3 separate regions of the Homo sapiens genome follow, and all the other regions are reported to be linked to region 2. The links are microRNA targets in miRTarBase. Many come from high-throughput screens and were not tested one by one. Region 2 holds a microRNA gene; each other region holds the end of a gene's coding sequence.

Evidence for each region. The annotated mature microRNA hsa-miR-4474-5p reads UUAGUCUCAUGAUCAGACACA and lies in region 2 at 4,393-4,413, opposite strand. An mRNA with a match to its seed (bases 2 to 7 or 8) in the 3' UTR can be bound and repressed. Matches are read on the target gene's strand: a 7mer-m8 pairs with bases 2 to 8, a 7mer-A1 pairs with bases 2 to 7 and ends in A, and an 8mer does both.
Region 1: the mRNA of SMIM21 is a reported target of hsa-miR-4474-5p. Seed matches in the 3' UTR shown: 7mer-m8 at 2,315-2,321.
Region 3: the mRNA of CEP55 is a reported target of hsa-miR-4474-5p. Seed matches in the 3' UTR shown: 7mer-m8 at 5,788-5,794.

What each region holds. Positions count from the first base shown.
Region 1 is chr18:75,404,715-75,412,014 of GRCh38, reverse strand. It overlaps SMIM21 (small integral membrane protein 21), which reads left to right. Exons shown (of 3, transcript NM_001037331.3): 3 at 1,106-2,539. The coding sequence ends at 1,151. LOC105372200 (a long non-coding RNA gene) reads right to left here and starts at 6,569. Exons shown (of 4, transcript XR_935636.3): 1 at 4,923-6,569; 2 at 3,942-4,110. RefSeq lists an enhancer at 2,356-3,555.
Region 2 is chr9:20,497,918-20,504,917 of GRCh38, forward strand. It overlaps MIR4474 (microRNA 4474), which reads right to left and starts at 4,425; the gene lies at 4,348-4,425. All of the region lies in intron 2 of MLLT3 (MLLT3 super elongation complex subunit), which reads right to left.
Region 3 is chr10:93,526,916-93,534,186 of GRCh38, reverse strand. CEP55 (centrosomal protein 55) reads right to left here. Exons shown (of 9, transcript NM_018131.5): 9 at 5,095-6,237. The coding sequence ends at 6,034. Among named protein-coding and RNA genes, the nearest start is that of CEP55, 34 kb to the right of the region's middle.

The DNA.
Region 1 (7,300 bases), not on the chromosome of region 2:
TTCTTATAGCCACTGTCACCTTCATCTATATATTTGCTGGTGATTTATTAATATCTGTTCTACCTGTCTCGGCCTGCAGGAGACCTTGTATTGCTGCATGCCTTCTATAGAGCAGGGAGAAATGAAGGGAGCAGATGGGATTATGACTTATTTTCCAACGTTGAATTTATAAAAAGATCTTTTGTCAGACATTGCACAGCAGTTTGTAGGATGAAATTAATCCTATGAATAAAATTGCTAACCTCCACCTAAAATAGGTGCTTTATTTAAAGAAGGATCGATGAGGCTTGCTAAATATTATTTTTAGTGTTGATGAAAGATTTTCATAATATCAGGCTGCAAACATGGGCTAAAGTGGCAGTTCTGGATGCCATGCCAGCGTGCTGGAGCTGGCTAACGATGTCACCCACAATGTCAGTGAGGCAAAGCCACCCCTGAGCTGTCTCCAGGCCTCTGTCCCTCCTCTGCAATCTCAGGGTAGGAGAAATGTTTTTCTCAATGCATGTGAATCTAACTTTGGACACATCTCACAGTCTCATCTTCCAAGGATCATCATTCGTGAGTTAGACAGCAAAACGGTTAGCCGTGTCCACCATGTAACAAAACACATTCTTGAGGCCGTCAGGCCAAACCCCTGAGCTCTTTGTTCTTTGCCCAATGGTCTCATGGCTTCTGGTTTTTAGGGGAACATTATGACTGGTCTACTATTTTGGTGCTGCTTCTTTTTGAAAAGGTTCAGAAAGAGAGTTTATTTCAGAGTTCGCATATACTCGACTTCTATCTATCATCCTTTATACAAGGCTAGTAAGGGCTTTGAGAAGCCAGTGCATCCTACATTACTGTCTTTGTGGCCTTTGGTGTTTCATTCTCAGAGAATTATTCCAGGGTTCCTAGCTATTCTGAACTCAAAATTCCTGTTACCATCAAACAGTACTTGCTCCGGTGAGTATAATCCTCAGCCTCAAAACACTCCAAAATCTTGGGGGGAAAAATTAAATTTTAAAATGTGTTCATTAGATAAAAACAAATGGTCAATTTTATTGTAATATTTTGATTATATCTATCAAAAAAATAAAATGCTTTTTCCCCCTTTTGTCTCTTGCAGCTTTCTACGTTTGAAGTCATCCAGGAACACAGCAGAAGCAGAATAAATGACACTACGTTTCTCTCTCATGGCCTTCATACCATGGATTTCCCCTGCTCAAGATGAAAAGAAATTAAGAGGAAATCAGATTGCTTAGAGATAGCAGATTATTGCTCACTTTTTAAAAGGAGCTCCACAGAGAGAATGAAGAACGTGTAACTTTTTGCAATGATAATGTCTGCTTTGTTCTTGAGGGGCACTCTTCCTTTTTCTGTTCAGGAATATTCCGGAGGAGAGCTGCAGATGCCACCCAACCCTGCGAAATCTGCCCTGCGTGTCGAAACAGATCCAGCAGTGCAAAGAACTTCTTCATTAGGACATCAAGCCTGTAGTCATATTTTCAATTGCTGCTGTAACTTTTTCCTTGCAAGTGCTTTCACTTATTTCGGGACCACCTAAGGCTCTGTGTGGTATACAGCAACACAGTTTGAGATATTTCTGTGATGTTCTGTATATCATATAGTTGCTAACAACCTGTCAAAGTCATCCTGACACCAAACTGAGAAGCTGATGGTTTGGGTAACATATTAGAGGAGATGAAAAAACCGACAGTCCTCATTACTGTAATAAAACCAGCAGAGACACACTGAGAATCAATTACTGATTGTGACCTAATGAACTAACCCTCAGTCAAGTAGAAAACTGCACCAAGCCTCTTACATTATCAAATGATTTAGGATGGAGCACTGTCTGAAGACGGGCAACAAGTCGAGGCAGATGAGTTTTCTTATATTGTGGCTGACTTAATTACCTTGTTCCTGAGTGCAGAGATCAAATTGAGCAACTTAAGGTGCTAAAGCTCTGTGCCAGCTGGAAATGAAAAGGAAATAATTAACACCAACAAGAGCTACGTCTAAGGTTGTGGCACCTCCTGACAGAAGCAAGGAGACTCAAAGTTAAGGCGGCTGCAAAGTCCTTGACGAGGTGAGCCCTGCTCTATCCGCCTGGCTGGATTCGTCCAGGTTGCCTGTGGCAGCTGTGCACTGAAGAGTCCGGCTGGGGAGCCAGGGATTCAGAACTCACAGTGCAGCCTGACGACCAAAGGGCAAATCCACCTGAGGACCTGAGTGCAGATGGCTGGGCTCCCCGGAACAAAGTGGAGGAATGACAGAGGTGTAACTCTTACACCACAGCCTCCATCTGTGTGTCGCAGAGAAAAATACTATAATGGAGACTATTCTTACACACATACACACACACACACACACACAGAGTTCTTGTCACCGATGGAACAGTCTGTCTTTGTCTTTCATCTCCCACATTCATGTCCAGATCCCATTGCGCTGCATCACACGTGAACCCAGTGAGGTCAACAATGAATGGATGGTGTTCACAAAGAAACCAGCTTATGGAAGGGGACCTGTTACAATTCTTTGAATTAAGTTCTTGGAAGCCATTTTTCATCTCATTTGTCACTATAGTGTTCTTCTCTTCACACATGCAGGGGTGGCAAGGCATCAAACCAAAACATGGCAGGCTCCTTCACTGCCAGACTAGGAGATGAATCCTGGGTACACTGAAAAGGAAGCACTCAGAAGCAGTGACAGTGATGACAATCGAGGCCCCAGGTTCACATCCCTCAGTCCTCCCATGAAGGATCTAGTCCCACTCAGAGGACACGCCCAGGCTGCATCTGCACTACCTGTACTTCCCAACAGGCATTTGGAGAGGAGAGACTCAGCTCTGTCAACATAAAGCTCTGTGAAGCCAGCTTGAGTGCTTCCCACAAAGGGTTGAGTGGGATTAATCTCCCCACATCACTGATGAATCAGTCCCATCAGCACTGCATGTGGCATCATCAGACCACAAGGACACACTTCATGAAGGGGTTTCTCAGTATTGAGTCATCACTCGAAGACCTGACACACAAATGAGTCACAGCTGGGAGAGTGTTTGGAGAAATGGGCATTTGAGAAATGGGCTGTGTAGGCCGTATCCCCTCCATAGGAAGTCGGCAAACTAGGGCGAGGCAAGGATGCTCCCACTGCAGCCACACACTACAAATCAGGGGCAGGGATGCTTAACTCTGCCCAACTTTAGATGAGTTTTAAAAAGCAGCACTTCTCAGACCTAGTTAAATGCAGATTCTGATTCATAGGTCTGGGTGAGGCCAGAGATTGTGCAATTCTAACAAATCCGCGACAATGCCGCTGGACTTGCCTGTGTTTGAACTATCCTGGGAGCATCACGGCCTCAAATCTTCTGTTCCTTCCCCCAGGGTCCTTATCCAGTTGGGCAGACATACTAGACATTCTAACTACATCCTATGAGCACAATCATAAGTCCTATGAGCAACTTACCACTCCAAAGGAGGTAGATGGAACTGAGTGCTCTGGTAAATTTCTGGAGCACCAGGCCCCTTGGCCAGCCCAGTCTTCAAGGCCCACTTTTGGGAGCATGGCCTTTAAGGCCCTCACACGAGCAAGCCAATAAGTGGTAAGGAGCAGAGCAGAATTCCCCAGGGGCTGGAGGGTAGGTGTTGATCAGGCCCAGGCAAGCACAGCACAGTCAAAGTAAACCCATCCAGGCCTGTGTACCCTGCCCCGACCATGAGACTCCCTGGAGTTAGTTGAGTCTGACCTGAGAGCAAGGTACAGTCACCGGGAGTAATTTTCAAATTAATGAATTGTGTACAGACCATGAGGCAACTGCTTGTCCAGATGCCTTTCATAGTCCACTGATGGAAGCATTCACTAGGCTCCTTGCAGAACTGAATGCTGCAAAAAAGAATTACACAACATCCAGAAACTTGAAAAAGAGGGAAGGGAGATTTGGTACAGGCATCTCGCTCACTAACCTGAGTCTTTGTTGAATGAGAACACGGTGCCTGGTGCGGCCACTGCTGCCACCAGGGACGCCAGGCCAAGCCATCATTCAGTGCTGCTCTGCAGCGTGCTGCCCTGCCCTCCTGAAAGCTGCGTGATTCATTGGATTTAATATTGTCCTGAGTCTCACTCCAGGGAATTCTGCAGGAATGTTGTTCAAAAAAAAAAAAAAAGAAAGAAAGAAAGAAAAAAAAAACAGCCATTTCAAACAGTCTGTAGGCTCCGTTCTATAAAATAGGTTATTAACTTGCAGTGATGGCAGCCAATAGTTCAATTGCTGTAAGGTCACAGGTTATTCAATGGGAAGGACCACATTTTCGATTGTTTTACCCTGACTCCCCGCTGATATGCAGGCTTTACCAGGATTAGTGTTAAAATCCTCACTGTGAAACGCAAAGCCCAGAAAGAAAGCCGCATCCTGCTCGCCTCCGCCTCTGAACCAATGCGGGACCTGTAAATACTCCTCCCCTTGGCTGCTCTCAAGTCCCTTTACGATGAGGCTGGCTTGTAGCAGCGAAGGGGTCGCGCGGGGACTCTCTCCACCTCCTCCAAAGACTATATAATAGCCCATGCAGACATTTCCTGATGTTTAAAATCTCTCCAATTTTCCTCCTCTGCTCCTGCATTTTTAATCTCTGGAATGCCTATGACTGGACGCATGTGCCTACTCCTCCCCACCCCCATCCACCAACATGAAAAGAAGATTCTGTCTGGATTTGGGTCTGCTCTTTTCTGGATACCTACGGGAAGTTCATCGGGTGCTCTCTTACACTTGCCAAGCTGAATCAGGCCCCCAGAGGGTTTCCCTCCCACATTGCCTTCCCGCATCATGAGGGAGGCTGCTGCTGTCTGAAACATAATAAACGTTTCTTAAAATTCCTTTCCGATCACACCTAAACTCTGACAAGTATTTGCAGCTTCTATCTCCTTTGAATTTAAGGAGGATGACAAACCTGAGCACAGAACAAACAATATCTCCACCTAATGATTGCAAGCCCAACTTCCAGGACTTGACTTCCGAGGCCTTACTGACTTCCGGAACTTGGCTTCCGGAGCCTGACTGACTTCCACAGCCTGACCCGGAAGGCTTTGGTAATTTTGAACCGGAGCTTTTTCAGGAATCTGCGGGCTTGGTGTCTGAGGCCCTCACAGTCAAGCCCCATCCACACACTGGACATCACAGCTCTGCCCCATGGACAGTGCAGATAATGTTTAATTGAAAACAAAAGTGTCATTTTGGAAGGCCTGCCCCACCCCACGCCCCCACCTGACACACGTGGAGGCTTCAGAGTGTGCAGGGCTGAGCCTCACGACCTTCTCCCTCGAATGTTCCCTGAAGCCCCTCGGATCTCTTGACACAGGCGCCTTCTCCATCCCTGCCGCCCGCTGCTCTCACCGAGGGAGGCTGCTGTCGCCACACCCTGAGCTGGGCTTCGCGGTTGAGATTCACAGTAACTCGCCTCAAAGAAGCTACCGGCAGGGAAACATCTCCTCAGGGTATGTCTGCTCCCAAACAGACGCCACTTGGAAAAGATCACGTTTGCTGTTTATCTTCTATTTGCCACAGTAGTACACGAAAATAGAGTATTTGCAAGAAATTAAGAAGAACAACGAAACTGAAACTACCTGATGATCCCACCCTTGAGATAAACACGGGTAACATTTTGTAGGATTGCTTTTCAGTCTTCTCAGTCCCATTTCAAAAACAGCACAACATACAGTGTGAGATCTCTTGAAAGTTGTCAACCATGGGCTTTAGACCGAACTTGGGAATGAATATTCTGCCTTTTCTGTTCACGGCCTGCGTACGTTTCCCACCTCTGCCTTTCCTACCCCTCTGAGTGTTCTTGGAGGAAACCATGGTGTGCCCACGAGGCCATTCTGGGGATATGTTTAAAACTCCTCCTTCACAGAAACAGCCAAAGGGTGAAAGTATAAATCAGCTGCCCAGTGTTCAAAAAAAAAAAATCAACCATGCAGGGTTCAGGCTGGCCTTCCCAGCAGCCGAATGAGCAGAAGGGCTCAATGCTCTGCAGATTTGGGGATGTGCCCTAACACATGAAAGACTTGTCATCTGAAAATCACCGGGGGCCATGGGGGCCTCCACTAAGGTCCTCAGAGGCCTTCCTTCATCCACACACAGCCGGGCAACTCCAAAAGATGCTGTGCCCTGGGCAACATCCGAGCACTTCTTTTTGAAGGCTCAAAACAGGCCGTGTGCCACCCACATAGCACCTGGCCTTCCCCTTCACAGCAGGTAGCTGATGTCGCTGTTGGTCTGTACTTGGAGGTTATTTGATGCTTGTCTGTCTTCCCCCATGAGATTTTAAACTTCACAAGAATAGCGACTTTGCCACTTATGCTCAGAATTTTATTTCTAGTGCCTAAAACCAAGGTTCTCAACAAATATTTGGTGAGTAGATGAAGAAATAACAAGTGGGTGAGTAAAAAGGGTGGAATTTCCAAGGCTAGTATGACCAATAGCTGGCCCAACCAAGATCATTCCCCTCACAAGCTGTCACTCCTCCTTTACCCCCAACCCTCCACCTCTACACCTTACCTACCGTGTGTGACTCTGAATCACCCACCAGGAAGGCAAAACTGAGACAACTAAAGAGAATACAAGGGCACACGCCTTCCTGTTAAGGTCCTGACAGTTTATGACGCTAAAAAAAAAAAAAAAAAAAAAAAAAAAGGTAATACTGGAAGCATCTAGCTATGATCCTGATGATTTGAGAAAAGCCACAAAACTTGGCTAATTGGGATCATCTCCCTTTTATAAGCTCCAAATTTGATGGCCCTTCAAAGACACTTTCTAAATCCTACCTCACACTACCTATCATTCTTAGTAGAAGCTACCCACTTTCCACAAAGTAATACAGACTATCAGATAATGAGTTTCTAGAATTTATCTATGCCCACCCAGTCTATCTTTGCACTTCTGTTAGAGAAAAAGATACTCCTGTACTTCTCCAAATCTGACCAGGCTACTTTTGACTCTTTCAGTCTCTCTCCCCACAACCTTTCCCCACACATGCACATACATAGACACACACATATATCTTTAATCTTTCCGTTTAATTTGTCTTCTTCTCTCCCATCTGTAAACATGCTCAAAACTCTTCTTAAAAATAAAACATAAGTGCCCCAAATCATAAAACGACTTCTCTTCTCCAACTCTCTCTCAGGATAAGGACCATCTTTATCTCTCACTTGTAGAGAGAAAACTGTATGCAAAGAAATGGAAACCCATTTGCCCCTATCACAAATCAATTTCTGCTCACACCACTGCTGAGATAGCTCTCTACTAAATAATCAGTAATTCCCTAGT
Region 2 (7,000 bases):
TCAGCTAGGTAAAAGAACTCTTCTATGGGTGCAGTGGCTCATGCTTGTAATGCCAACACTTTGGGACAGTGAGGCGAGTGGATCACTTGAGGCCAGGAGTTCGAGATCAGTCTGCCTAACATGGTGAAACTTTGTCTCTACTAAAAAATATAAAAATTAGCTGGGCGTGGTGGCATGCACCTGTAGTCCCAGCAACTCAGGAGGCTGACGCAGAGAATCACTTGAACCTGGGAGGTGGAGGCAGAGGCTGCAGTGAGCAGAGATGGCGCCACTGTACTCCAGCCTAGGTGACAGAGCGAGACGCTGTCTCAAAAAAAAAAAAAAAAAAAAAAAAAAAAAAAAAAAAAAAGTTCTTCTAGCTGTTCTACCTTTACCAGTACTTGGTGTGGTCAGTCTTTTAAATTTTAGCCATTCTACTGAGAATGTAATACTCTTCTATTGGTTTTAATTTGCATTTTCCTAATCACTTATGATGTCGAGTATCTTTTCTTGTGCTTCTTTCACATCTGTATATCTCCTTTGATGAAGTGTCTATTCAAATCTTTTGCCCATTTTATAACTGAACCATCTTATTATTCAGCTGTAGGTTATTCATATAATCTAGATCAAGCTTGTCCAACCCGCCGACCACAGGCCACATGCAGCCCAAGATGGCTTTCAATGCGGCCCAACACAAATTTGTAAACTTTCTTAAAACATTATGAGATTTTTTTGTGTGTGATTTGTATTTTTTTTAGCTCATCAGCTATCAGTAGTGTATTTCATGTGGGGCCCAAGACAATTCTTCTTCCAATGTGGCCCAAAGAAGCCAAAAGATTGGACACCCCTGATCTGGATTCATGCCCTTGTCAGACATATGTTAACAAATATTTTCTCCCAGGCTGTGGCTTAACTTTTGTAACTTTTGAAGAGCAAATTGTTTTTATTGTTTCAATATAACTTTAAGCACTAAAGCATACTGCCTTAGTATTAGTGTATTAGATTCCTAGGGCTATTGTAACAAAATACCACAAATAGGGTGGCTTGAAACAACAGGAATTTAACCATTCATGCTAGAATTCTGAAATCAAAGTGTCAGTAGGGCCATATTCCCTCTGAAAGCTCTAGAAAAGAATCCTTCCTTGACTCTCCTAGCTTCTGGAGGTTGCTGGCAATCTTTGAAATGCATTTCTTAGTTGTAGCAGCATAACTCCAATCTCTGTCTCCATCTTCCCATGGGCTTCTTCCTGCCTCTGTATCTTCATATAAAGTATCTCCTCATAAAGACAGCAGTCACTGGACTTGGGCCAACAGTAATCCATGATGACCTCATCCTAAATTGATCACATCTACAAAAGACACTATTTCCAAATAAGGTCACATTCAAAGGTACCTGGGGTTAGGATTCAACATATATTTGGGAGGATATAACTCAGCCCATAACAGGCATTTAGTGTTTAATATGTTTTTAAAACCCACTGTAAATGATACAGGGAGGCTATGCATGTGTGAGGGGAGAGGGTACACAGGATATTTCTACATCTTCCTCTCAATTTTGCTGTGAACTTCAAACTGCTCTAAAAACATTGTCTTTAAAAAAAACACACACTGAACAATAAATTATTTGACATAAGCTCTGACCTCCTTGAAACAGTCCATTTTTGCTGCAATAACTGTTCTCATAGAGATACCTTCGAAATCATTTGCAGAATTTACCCATGGTCTTATTTCCCCAAAATAGATGCATTCCTTGCAATACAATCAGCTCAGCTTAAGGGTCTACCCTGAGCTGTCCCCTTATTAACAACTGTTAGGTAAAGGTACATGAAGAAAAAAACTTGTATGACTGTTTCTTTTAAGATCTCTATTGTTCTGTCTCCAAATAGGGTGTAAAAATGTAGCATCCTCCTGTAGTCCCAGCTACTCAGAAGGCTGAGGCGAGAGGATTATTTGAGCCTAGGGCTTTGAATCCAGCCTGGACATCATAGCAAGAACCTGTCTCTTAAAAAAAAATGTGGGGGAACAGGTGTTAATGCAGTGACAACTCTAAATCTGCATTCAGAGATGCCTCTTATTCCATCCCTGTCTTCCTTCAATACCACCTAACAGAAAATGGAAAAATGCTTCTCCAAAGAAACATGTTCCAATTATCTATTGATACATAATAAGTCACCATCAAGCTTAGTTTAAAACAGTAATAGCCATTTTACTTTCTCTGAGGGTCAGGAACTCAGAAAGGTTTGATTGTGTGGTTCTAGCTCAGAGTTTCTCATTTGGCTGCACTGAAATGGTGCCTGAAGCAAGAGCGGTGCAGGGCTAGCAGGGCAAAGGTCTGGCTGCTTAATACAGTTGGTCTTCTCAGGGCCCTTGGTCTCTCCTCACAACACAATGGCCTCTGAGCAGCTGGACTGCTTACATGAAGGCTGCAGGTTTCACAACTGAACACCGTATTTCAACAAAGAAAGGAGCATCACCTTTTCTGATCTAGCTTCAGAAATCACATAGCATCATTTCTGCACTACTCTATTGGCTGAAACAGGCACAAAAGCCAACCTAGCTTCAAAAAGAAAAGACAAAGACCCTACCTCTCAAAGACAGAAGTAGCAAAATCAACTGTGAGAAGAGCATGTGGGTGAAAGATAACTTTACGGAAATCTTTGGAAAATTCAATTTGCCCCAGAATATATCCTAGTTCTCCCTGGGGCATCAAGAACTATTGACCACTCAGTTCAAATTAAATTCTAAGGCAAAGCTATACACTGACATGCCCAGGCTCAATATTTTCCCCATTCTTATTTCTCCCAATACTGTTTTCCATCTTGTCTACTACAGTTGAGTATACCCTATTGACTTTGGTCCTCCAGGTGTTCTGTGTTACAAAAACCGAATTCAGAAGTTACTTACCACAGGTCATATAGAGAAACTAATAGCAATCTCTTGATGCACAGCTGCATCATTTTCAACTCCCTCCAGTTCAATGTCTTCTTTAAGTTCAATGCCCAGAAACCTGGGTTACACTCTAGCCCTCCCAATAATTATTAAGAATTGCCTATAATTCAGAGTTTCAAATCATTCTTTCATTAGTTTAAAGTGAATTTCCCATTATAAAACACACAGATACACACACACATGCACACACATGTGCACCACTTTCCTTAGCTAAATATGATTGATTTTTGGATAATTTACCAATTATGGTTCATGGTATCCATTCACTAGTTAAAATGCCTAGGAATTACTATATTTCCCTTTCTACTTCCATAAATCATGATGTCACAAATCTTTATTCAAATATACCATTTCTAGGACACCTCATTTACTTTAAGATTCTCTCATTCTCCATAAAATGTAATGGAAAATAAATTCCACACAATAAATATTGATGGAACACTGAATACATACCAGGCCTTCTGCTATGTGTGAGGTGACGAAGGCAAATAAGACAGTTTCCTTCCCCTCACATAGTTAAGGCATCTAACTATGAAGACAAATTTACCAACAACCATGATTATTACTTACAATATCCAAAGGAGCCCTCATTAAGACCTAGGAGACTCAGTTAAAACCACACCCGGCCGGGCACGGTGGCTCACGCCTGTAATCCCAGCATTTTGGGAGGTCGAGGCGGGTGGATCATGAGGTCAGGAGATCGAGACCATCCTGGCTAACAAGGTGAAACCCCGTCTCTACTAAAAATACAAAAAATTAGCCGGGCGCGGTGGCGGGCGCCTGCAGTCCCAGCTACTTGGGAGGCTGAGGCAGGAGAATGGCGTGAACCCGGGAAGCGGAGCTTGCCGTGAGCCGAGATTGCGCCACTGCAGTCCGCAGTCCGGCCTGGGCGACAGAGCGAGACTCCGTCTCAAAAAAAAAAAAAAAAAAAAAAAAAAAAACCGCACCCAAGAGGTCAGGCGAGGTGGCTCAGACCTGTAATCCCAGCATTTTGAGAAGCCAAAGCAGGCAGATCACCTGAGACCAGGAGTTCGAGACTAGCCTGGCCAATATGGTGAAACCTCGTCTCTACTAAAAATACAAAAATTAGCTGGGGGTGGTGACACACACCTGTAATCCCAGCTACTGGGGAGGCTAAGGCAGGAGATTCACTTGAACATGGGAGGCGGAGGTTGCAGTAAGCCAATATGGTGCCATTGCACTCCAGCCTGGGCAACAAGAGCGAAACTCCATCTCAAAAAAAAAAAAGGGGGGGGGGGGGACTACCTTTTAAGGAAAAGTAGGTAAATATCTGACAATAATAAAACGAAGAGTACTGATTGTTGACAAAGTTAAAATGTAAGCAAAAATTCCAGAGTATACAGAATGCCTGGCTTGACAGGGCACCACAAATGAACCTGACTTGAAGTGTGGTTCCAGGTGCCTACCTTGTTAGCCTCATGACCAGCCACAAAGAGCCATATTTGTGTCTGATCATGAGACTAACAAGGTAGGCAAATGCCAGCCTGTGATGTTCCTTACATAGCACTGTAAGGAGCTGAATTCTACAGGTAATAGCTAGCCACCAAGTATTTTTAAGAGGTGAAAAAACTTGCAGACAACGTGATCTTATACAGTTGCTTGTCTATATCCATGGGTTCCACATCTGTGGATTCAACCAACCACAGATTGAAATATTAGGAGAAAAAATTACATCTGTACTGAACTTTTTTATTGTCATTATTCCCTAAGCAATACAGTATACCAACTATTTATATAACATTTACAATGTATTAGTTATTATAAGTAATCTAGAGATAATGTGTAGTATACAGGAGAATGTGCATAGGTTATATGCAAATACTATGCTATTTTATATCAGAGATTTCAGAATCCATGGGTTTGGGTATCCACAGGAGGTCCTGGAACCAATCCCCTGCAGATACTGAGGAATGACTGTAGACAAACAACCCTAACATCTCCATCAAAAAACTGTTAGAACTAATAAATAAATTCAGTGAAGCTGCAGGAAACAAAATCAACATCATTTTTCAAACATCAGTAGCATCTGTATATGCTAACAATGAGCTATCTGAAAGATAAATTAAGAAAACAATCCATTCACTACAGCAACCAAAAAGAACAGAATGCTTAGGAAAAAATTTAAACCAAGAAGTTGAAAGACCTGTACACCAGAAACTATAAAAGATTGATGAAAAAAACTGAAGACAACACAAATAAGTGGAAAGACATACTGTGTTCACAAGTGGAGAAATTAATAGTGTTAAAATGTCCACACTACCCAAAGTGATCTACAGATTCCCCAATCAAAATTTCAATGACATTTTTTACAGAAATAGAAAAAACAATCCTAAAATTTGTATGGAACCACGAAAGACCCCAAATATCTGAAGTAATCTCAAGCAAAAAGAACAAAGCTAGAGGCATCACACTATCTAACTTCAAAGTATACTACCAAGCTACAGTAATCAATACAGCATGCTGCTGGTATAAAAAGAGACACACAGATCAATGGAATGGAATAGAGGGCCCAGAAATAAATCTACACATATACAGTCAATTGATTTTCAACAAAGGTGCCAAGAATGCACAATGGGGAAAGCACAGCCTCTTCAATAAATGGTGTTAGGAAAACTGGACACCACACACATAAGAATGAAATTCGACCCTTACTTCATACTAAATATAAAAATCAACTCAAAATGGACTAAAGATTCAAATGTAAACCTTGAAACCATAAAAATACTAGAAGAAAACATAGCAGAAATTCTCCATGACATTATTCTGGGTGATGATTCTTTGGATATGACCCCAAAAGCACAGGCAACCAAAAACAAAAACAAAAAAATAGATAACTGGGATTACATCAAACTAAAGAGCTCTGCACAGCAAAGAAAACAATCAACACACTGAAAGACAACCTGCAGCCTGGAAAAAAATATATGCAAACCATGCATCTGATAAAAGACTAATATCCAAAATATATGAGGAACTCAAACAACTCAATAGCAAGAAAATAAATAACCTGATTTTAAAATGGGTGAAGGACTTGAAAAGACATTTCTCAAAAGACGACATACAAATAGGCAACAGGTGTATGAAAAAATGCCCAACATTACTAATCATCAGAGACATGCAAATTAATACCACAATGAGATATCACTTCACACGTGCTAGAATGGCTATTATCGAAAAGATGAAGATAGATTTTTGCAAGGATATAGAGAGCAGAGAAAAAGGATCCACTGTATACTGTTGGTGGGAATGAAAACTAGTATAGCCATTATGGAAAATTTTAAGGTTCCTCAAAAATTAAATTATTGACCTAGCAATTCCAAAACTGTGTATACATCCAAAGGAAACAAAACCAGTATTTCAAAAAGATATCTGTACTTCCATTTTCACTGCAGTACTAGTTACAATAGTCAAGATATGGAATCAACCTAAGTGTCCATGAAGAGAAGAATGGACAAAGAAAATGTGAAATATATATCCCCAATGGAATTGTGTGTGTGTGTGTGTGTGTGTACAAATATAATTATATTAAAGGCTGAATACTATTCAGCCTTTAAAAAGAAGGAAATCCTGTCATTTTCAACAACATGAATGAACCTGGAAGACATTATGTTAAGAGAAATAGGCCAGACACAGAAAGACAAATAATCACATGATTTCATGTGTATGTGTAATCTAAAAAAGCTGAACTCATTGAATCAAAGAGTAGAATGGTGGTGGGTGGGGGCAGGTGGAGAGTTGGGGAGATGTTGTTCAAAGGATATAAAATTTCACTTGATAAGAGGAATAAGTTCAAGAGATTTATTGTACAATATGGTGACTACAGTTCATAACAATGTATTTTATTTTGAAAAACATTAAGGGGATTTTAAGTCTTCTCACCACAAAACATGATGAGTACCTGAGATAATGCATATGTTAATTAGCTCAATTTGGCCATTTCACAATGTATACAGATTTCCACATCATGTTATACACTATAAATATGTATAATTTTTATTTTTCAATTTAAAAAATTATTTTTTTAAGTAGAAAAACTTGATGAGACCCATGTTTT
Region 3 (7,271 bases), not on the chromosome of region 2:
GGTGCGGTGGCTCACGCCTGTAACCCCAGCACTTTGGGAGGCCAAGGCGGGCGGATCACCTGAGGTCAGGAGTTTCAGACTAGCCTGACCAACATGGAGAAACCCCGTCTCTAATAAAAATATAAAATTAGCCAGTCATGGTGGCACATGCCTGTAATCCCAGCTACTCGGGAGACTGAGACAGGAGACTCGCTTGAACCCAGGAGGTGGAGGTCGCGGTGAGCCAAGATCATGCCATTGCACTCCAGCCTGGGCAACAAGAGTGAAACTCCATCTCAAAAAAAAAAAAAAATACAAAAAAACAAAAAATCCAAGTGGCTAGCTGTAGCCCTTGACAAAGTAACACATAACCACAAATTTAGCACATAGTGGGAAACTCAGAGGTTTTAGTTTTTCCCATGAAGTTCTCTTCTTTGAATGTATTTTTCTATCATGTAGCCCCTGCCTTTAAAACATTAAGCTCTTGGTGAAAGCAATGGATCCTATAACTCATTTATCCTTCCCTCCCTTCTCCATTTACCTCCATCTGCCTTCTATCTGAGGACGAGAGTTACGTTTGCTGATATTAAAGTCACCAAGGAATCACCAGTTTGTGGGTTTGTTGGAGGCTGGACATGCACACACAGAATATGGCTCCTAGCATAAACTCCTGCTCAAATACAACAGACTTCTTAAGAAAAAAAATAAAATAAAATAAAAAAGGAAAACAAAACAACAACAACAGAAAATACCAAAACCAGTAGATGGTTCCAGTTCTGGTAATGACAGTGTAGCTTTTATCAGACTAACCCACTATTCAATAACAATTATAAACTCTGGACAAAATATGAAAAACAACTGTTGATGGCAATGAAGAACAACCAAAGGCAGGCAGCCACTGGAATGGCCATGGCTCTTGAAAGAAGGGAAGCAAAGTGAGTTCTATATTTAACTGGTTTTCCCCCATGAGTATTATTTAGTCCTGACAGTGCATGGTGAAATACAGCCTAAACAAATGTGGCAATTTGAGTCTCCAAGAACACAACTGTATATTCTCAAAAGGAAAATAATCCAGAATTTCTGTAATGTATCATCTACAATGTCACTCCTATACTAAAAAATTTAATAGACATGTATAGAAACACAAAAAATGTGACCCATAATGAGAAAAATTAGCCAATAAAAATAGACACATAGATGACCTAGATGTTGGAATTAGCATCTATGTTAACTGTTTTAAGCTGCTATGAATATGCTAAAGAATTTACAGGAAGAAATGGACAGAATGGGTGAATAGAGAACTCAGAAGAGAAATGGGAACTCTAGTAAAAGAAGAGAGATCCTAGATCCATGCTATCCAACATGGTAGCCCTTAGCCACGACAGCCACAATGTGGCTATTGAGCATTTCAAGTGTGGTTAGTCCAAATTGAGATGTGCAGTAATTTTGAAATACTAAATTTCAAAGATTTAGCATAAAATAGCTCATTAATAGTTTTTATATTGATTATATGTTAAGTGATAATATTTGGGATATGTATAGTTAAATGAAACATATTATTAAAATTAACTACACCAATTATTTTACTTTTTTTATTTTTTGTAGAGATGGAGGGGTCTCCTTGCTGTCCAGGCCAGGCTCGAACTCCTAGCTTCAAGTGATCCTCCTCCCTTGGCCTCCCAAACTGCTGGGATTACAGGTATGAGCCACTGCACCTGGCTATTTTACTACTTTTGTTGTTGTTTTACTTTTCTTTTCTTTTTTTTTTTTTTTTTTTGAGACAGGGTGTCACTCTGTCACTCAGGCTGGAGTGCAGTGGCATGATCTTGACTCACTGCAATTTCCAGCTCCTGGGCTCAAGTGATCCTCTCACCTTAGCCTCCTGAGTAGCTGGGACTACAGGCATGCACCACCATTCCCAGTTAATTTTTTTTTTCTTTCTTTTTTTTTTTTTTGGTACAAAGAGTTTCGCCATGTTTCCCAGGCTGGTCTCAAACTCCTGGGCTCAAGTGATCTGTCTGCTTTGGCGTCCCAAAGTACTGGGATTACAGAAGTGAGCCACCATCCCTTGTCTATTTTAGTATTTTTTAATGTGGCTACTGGAAAACAAAATTACATGAGGCTTGCATATTTCCATTGGACAGCACTGTTCTAGAACTGTAAAATACAATATTTGAATTCAGAGAGGTGAAAATACTAAAATTAATTAATAAATTAATAAGATTCCAGGATGCTACTAGGTCAATATACAAAAATCAGTTGCATTTCTAACCCTAGCAACAAACAATTAGAAAATAATTTTTTTTTTTTGAGACAGAGTCTCACTCTGTTGCCCAGGCTGGAGTGCAGTGGCATGATCTTGGCTCACTGCAACCTCTACTTCCTGGGTTCAAGTGATTCTTGTGCCTCAGCCTTTCCAGTAGCTAGAATTACAGGTGCACACCACCACTCCTGGCTAATTTTTGTATTTTCAGTAGAGATGGGTTTTCACCATGTTGGCCAGGCTGGTCTCGAACTCCTGACCTCGAGAGATCCACCCACCTCGGCCTCCCAAAGTGCTGGGATTACAGGTGTAAGCCACTGCGCCTGGCTGGAAAATAAATTTTTAAAAGGCCATTTATAATAGCATAAAACTCAGACTTTCAAGAATAAACTTAATAAAAGGCTAAGCTCTATGCACTGAAAGCTGTAAACATTGCTGAGAGCAGCTAAAAAAGAACTAAATGAAGAAATGTTTCTGGATTGTGCAGATGTCAATTTTTGAGAAATTAATCTATAGATATATACTATCCCAATGGAAATTCCAGGAAACTTTTGTAAAAATTGACAAGCTGATTTTAAAATGTATATGAAAATGGAAATGTCCTATATTAGTCAAGACATTCTTGAAGAATAAAGTTGGGGGACTTACCCTGATTTCAAGACACAATAACACTCCAGCATTAGTCTTATTAATTTTGTTAATTTATTGTGGCATTTAGTAATTTAGTTAATTAGTGTAGTTATTAATTTAGCATGTGTTAAGATAAATAGGGCCAGGTGCGGTGACTCACACCTGTAATCCCAACAATTTGGGAGGCCAAGGCAGGAGAATTGCATTTGCCCAGGAGTTTGAGACCAGACTGGACAACACAATGAGACCATGTCTCTATAAAAAATTAAAAATATTAGCAAGGCATGGTGGCATATGCTTGCAGTCCTAGGTACTTGGGAGGCTGAGGCAGGAGGATCACTTGAGCCCAGGAGTTTAAGACTGCAGTGAGCTATGACTGTACCACTGCACTCCAGCCTGGGTGACAGAGGGGACCCTGTCTCTAAAAATAAATACATAAATAAAAATAAAAATAAATTAGATTGCCTCTGGGAGGAGGGGATTCTGGACTAGAAGTAATTAAAGAAACTTTCAGAAATGTTGGTAGAGTCTATAACTTTATTTGGCTGATGATTACAATGATATATATATACATCTGTCAAAACTCATTGATCTGTACATTTTATTTTATGTAAAATAATTGTGTAATAAAATATGTAACATAATTTTTTAATAAAAAGCAACAGAGTGGAGTAATCCTGGCATGGCAGCCCCAGCATGTTGGTTGGGAATGTAACTGTACAATGGAGAGAGATGAACTCTGCGACACACTGAGCTGAGTTTATATCCTTTCTTTACTACTTATCAGTGGTGACCTTGGGCAAATTGTTCACTCTCTGCAAGCCTTAGTTTTCTCATCTGAAAAATGGTGCTGGTGCTAGCACTTTACTTCACAGATTTGCAAGGAAGAGCTAATGAGTATAAGTAGTTAAAGTATCTAGCATGGTTTCTGGTAGTTTACAGTCCCACAGAAGAAAACATGCCCTAAGGGTAAGCGGTTATCTGCCAAGAAAAAAGGTGGACAGTGAAGGGGGAAAAAAAAGTCTTCAATTATGAGAACCTTGAAGATTTTCAGGTCTTGAAGATGCCTTTTATTGACCCTTGCTTTGGTAACATGATCTGGGAAAGTAGAATCCTTCCTGCTCTAAATCATCTACTCTTCGGAAATATATAAATTCCCCCTCTACAGTAGCAGAGCTCCACAAGAAGCCTGCCCAATTTTTCCAAAGTTATTTTTTTGATATTGGTGCCCAGATGTAGGTGGCTAAAGTGAGCAGGGAAAGCTAAGTACAGCCCTCCAGTGAAACACAGAAAGTACAAGAGTCTTGAAACAAACTCCAGATCACCCTGTGGCTCTGGGAATCAAACTTCAGAGGTCATCAGGCTGGCGCTTCTGTTATGGTTTATGTCCTGGCCAGTTATCCCATGAGACCACATCTCTTGTTCCATACAGGCACGGACCAAAGGCCTGGGTTCTGCTTGACTCCACTGCTCACTGGATGACCAAGACATGTTCCACATCTACAAACTAGAGGTAATACTGGCTTGCTTTAAAGTTGTAAGGGGAGCAACTTCCTTATGGCATATATTTATGATTTAATACTATGGTCTTTGCTATAACATTGTGGATCGGAATAAGAACTATGCGGCTGAATATGTCCATATCTTTTGTTCAACTGTAGTTGAAGATCTTGTGAGCCTGGGATTAACAGTAATGGCAAAATTTTATTTCCATCAACAGATCTGTATAATTTCTATGGTTAGAAAAAAAAACCCTATATAATTTGGCATGCTTATTGTTTTGCCTCTGTAACAAATAACTCAAATTCATATTTATTGATAAAGAGTTATTTATTTAAGAAAGATGCGTGAAAGCATCTACTCCTTCTAACTCCTTCACATAGTTTTCGGTTCTGATGTATCCTTAACTGCCTTATCATCTTACACTGAGTGTTAATCTGTAACCCCTGATAAGTCCTTGGGGGTAAGAATCTTAGAATATCTATTTATTGAGTTGTAATGGTGCTTTATATATTCTGGATACTAGACCCTTATCAGATACATGGTTTGAAAATATTTTTTCTCTTTCTGTTGGTTGTATTTTCACTTTTTTGATAATGTGCTTTGAATTATGTCTTAAATATTTTATTGTGAAAATCTTGAATTTTGATTATGTCCAACACATTTGTTTTTTTAAACAAGAATCTTAGAATATCTATATATACACGAATACACTAGACATATTAAAACATTAAATAATTTTATTCTTTTCTCATTTACAGTAGCCCAGTGGTAAGCATGTTAGAAAACCTGAAGAAATTTAAAAGTTTTTGGTTTACAAAAAGCATGTATAAAAATACCTGTTCAGACAAACAAAGATCTGATCATTACATTGCCCAGCTTTAAGAATGCCAAAAATAACTAAAATACTGTCAATCAAATGAGAGGGCTACATGGGTTTATTAAAGTTTATTTTAACAATTTTAGCTAAGCAGAATGTGCTAATGTAATTCAAGTTACAGTTACTGCCAGATAACATAAGAGAAAACATTGTGTGTGGCCACTTAAGATTATGCCTCAAACAGATACTGTTTCGTGCGCAGAACAGAGTTGGGGAACACAGCTGGGTTAAGTTTCAATGGTAAGCAGCAATAAAGATCAAGAAAATCCCCAACTTTTCTAATAACCGCTATACAATATGAAAAAAAAAATAGTATCTATCACCACCTCTTAACAATGGACATCAAAATTAGGATTGTAGGTTTTCTAAGTGCTTGGATAAAAAATGCGAACACAGTTAAGATCCTTGGTTAATTATCTTTGATTTTTCAAAACCCCCAAAACATAAAATATTTTGCTTGCTGGTGCATTAACCCATTAGCAATAACCTGAGCTATCTTTTCCTCACCAAGTATTTTGACAGTGCAAAATGTTAGTAGTCTCAGTAGACGCTGCTCACCACATTCTGTCATTGCAGCCTGATGATGAACCATGTCAGGGAGGTATCACTGCCAAGAGAAATGCACAGCAGCCTAAAAGATACATGATTCACTAGCATGCTGGAGTGTCAAAGGTAGATAGGCAGTTTTATGCAAAATGTGAAATATATAATTCAAAATGCCCACAAGCTAACAGAAAATACAGTATTGAATCTTTTAATATCAAAACAAATACTTATTTTGCTACTTTGAACAGTATTCCACATGGACAAGCAGATCGCGATGCTCAGTGGCTGGATACTGTATATTGCACTTGGGACATTCCACCAGGCTTTCATTGAGTGCAGCAGTGGGACTTTTTGGTGAGGCGGCAACTTTTTCTCTGTTTTCAGTCTCTCCTTGGAAAGTGACTAATGGCTCTGTGATGGCAAACTCATGAAGCTGTTTCTGAAAAATAAGTTTCAAATAATAGAATTTGTAAATAGGGCCAATGTTCAGCTTTTTTTTTTTCTTTTTTTGAGGCAGTCTCACTCTGTCACCCAGGCCAGAGTGTAGTGGCACAAACATGGCTCACTGCAGCCTCGACCTCCCAGGCTTAAGCAATCCTCTCACCTCAGCCTCCTAAGTAGCTGGGACTACAGGCACATGTCACCACGTCCAGATAATATTTCTATTTTTTGTAGAAATAGAAAATTCTACAAAAAATTAATTCTATGTTGCCCAGGCTGGTCTCAAACTCCTAAGCTCAAGTGATCTGCCCACCTCAGCCTCCCGAAGTGTTGGGATTACAGGCATGAACCACTGCACCCAGCCTGTTCAGCAATTTTAACTGTTCCATAAGTATTATAGCTGCTTCAGCACTGTAGACAGATTTTCTTTTGAATTTCAGCTCATCAGTATTATGAGGGTAATATATGAGGTAGTTGTGAATTTATCCAGATAACTACTGTAATTATCCAAATTACCCAGATATGGGAGTTGGGTGTATATATGAATATGTTTTATTAGGACACAGAGTCGAATATTAGGTAGGCCTATATGCAAGGCTGATTAAATTTGCTAGTTTTGTAAAACAGAGGCAACGTCAGCAATAAAGTACTACATGGAAATTAAAGGCAGCAAGCAATTTTAGCAGCTCAAACAGCTTATACACAGAAATGACTAAGATATTCTATCATACCTTTGAGACTTTCCTTTTTTGTGTTTTTTTTCTAAGAACTTGGAGTAGTTAAAAATGAGTATTTTACAGCACAGTGAAGAGGGTGGATAGCAGGAACAAAGTACAGGAAAATTACAAATTCTTTTTTTTTTTTAATTATACTTTAAGTTTTAGGGTACATGTGCACAATGTGCAGGTTTGTTACATATGTATACATGTGCCATGTTGGTGTGCTGCACCCATTAACTCATCATTTACATTGGGTATATCTCCTAATGCTATCCCTCCCCACTCCCCCCACCCCACAACAGGTCCTGGGGTG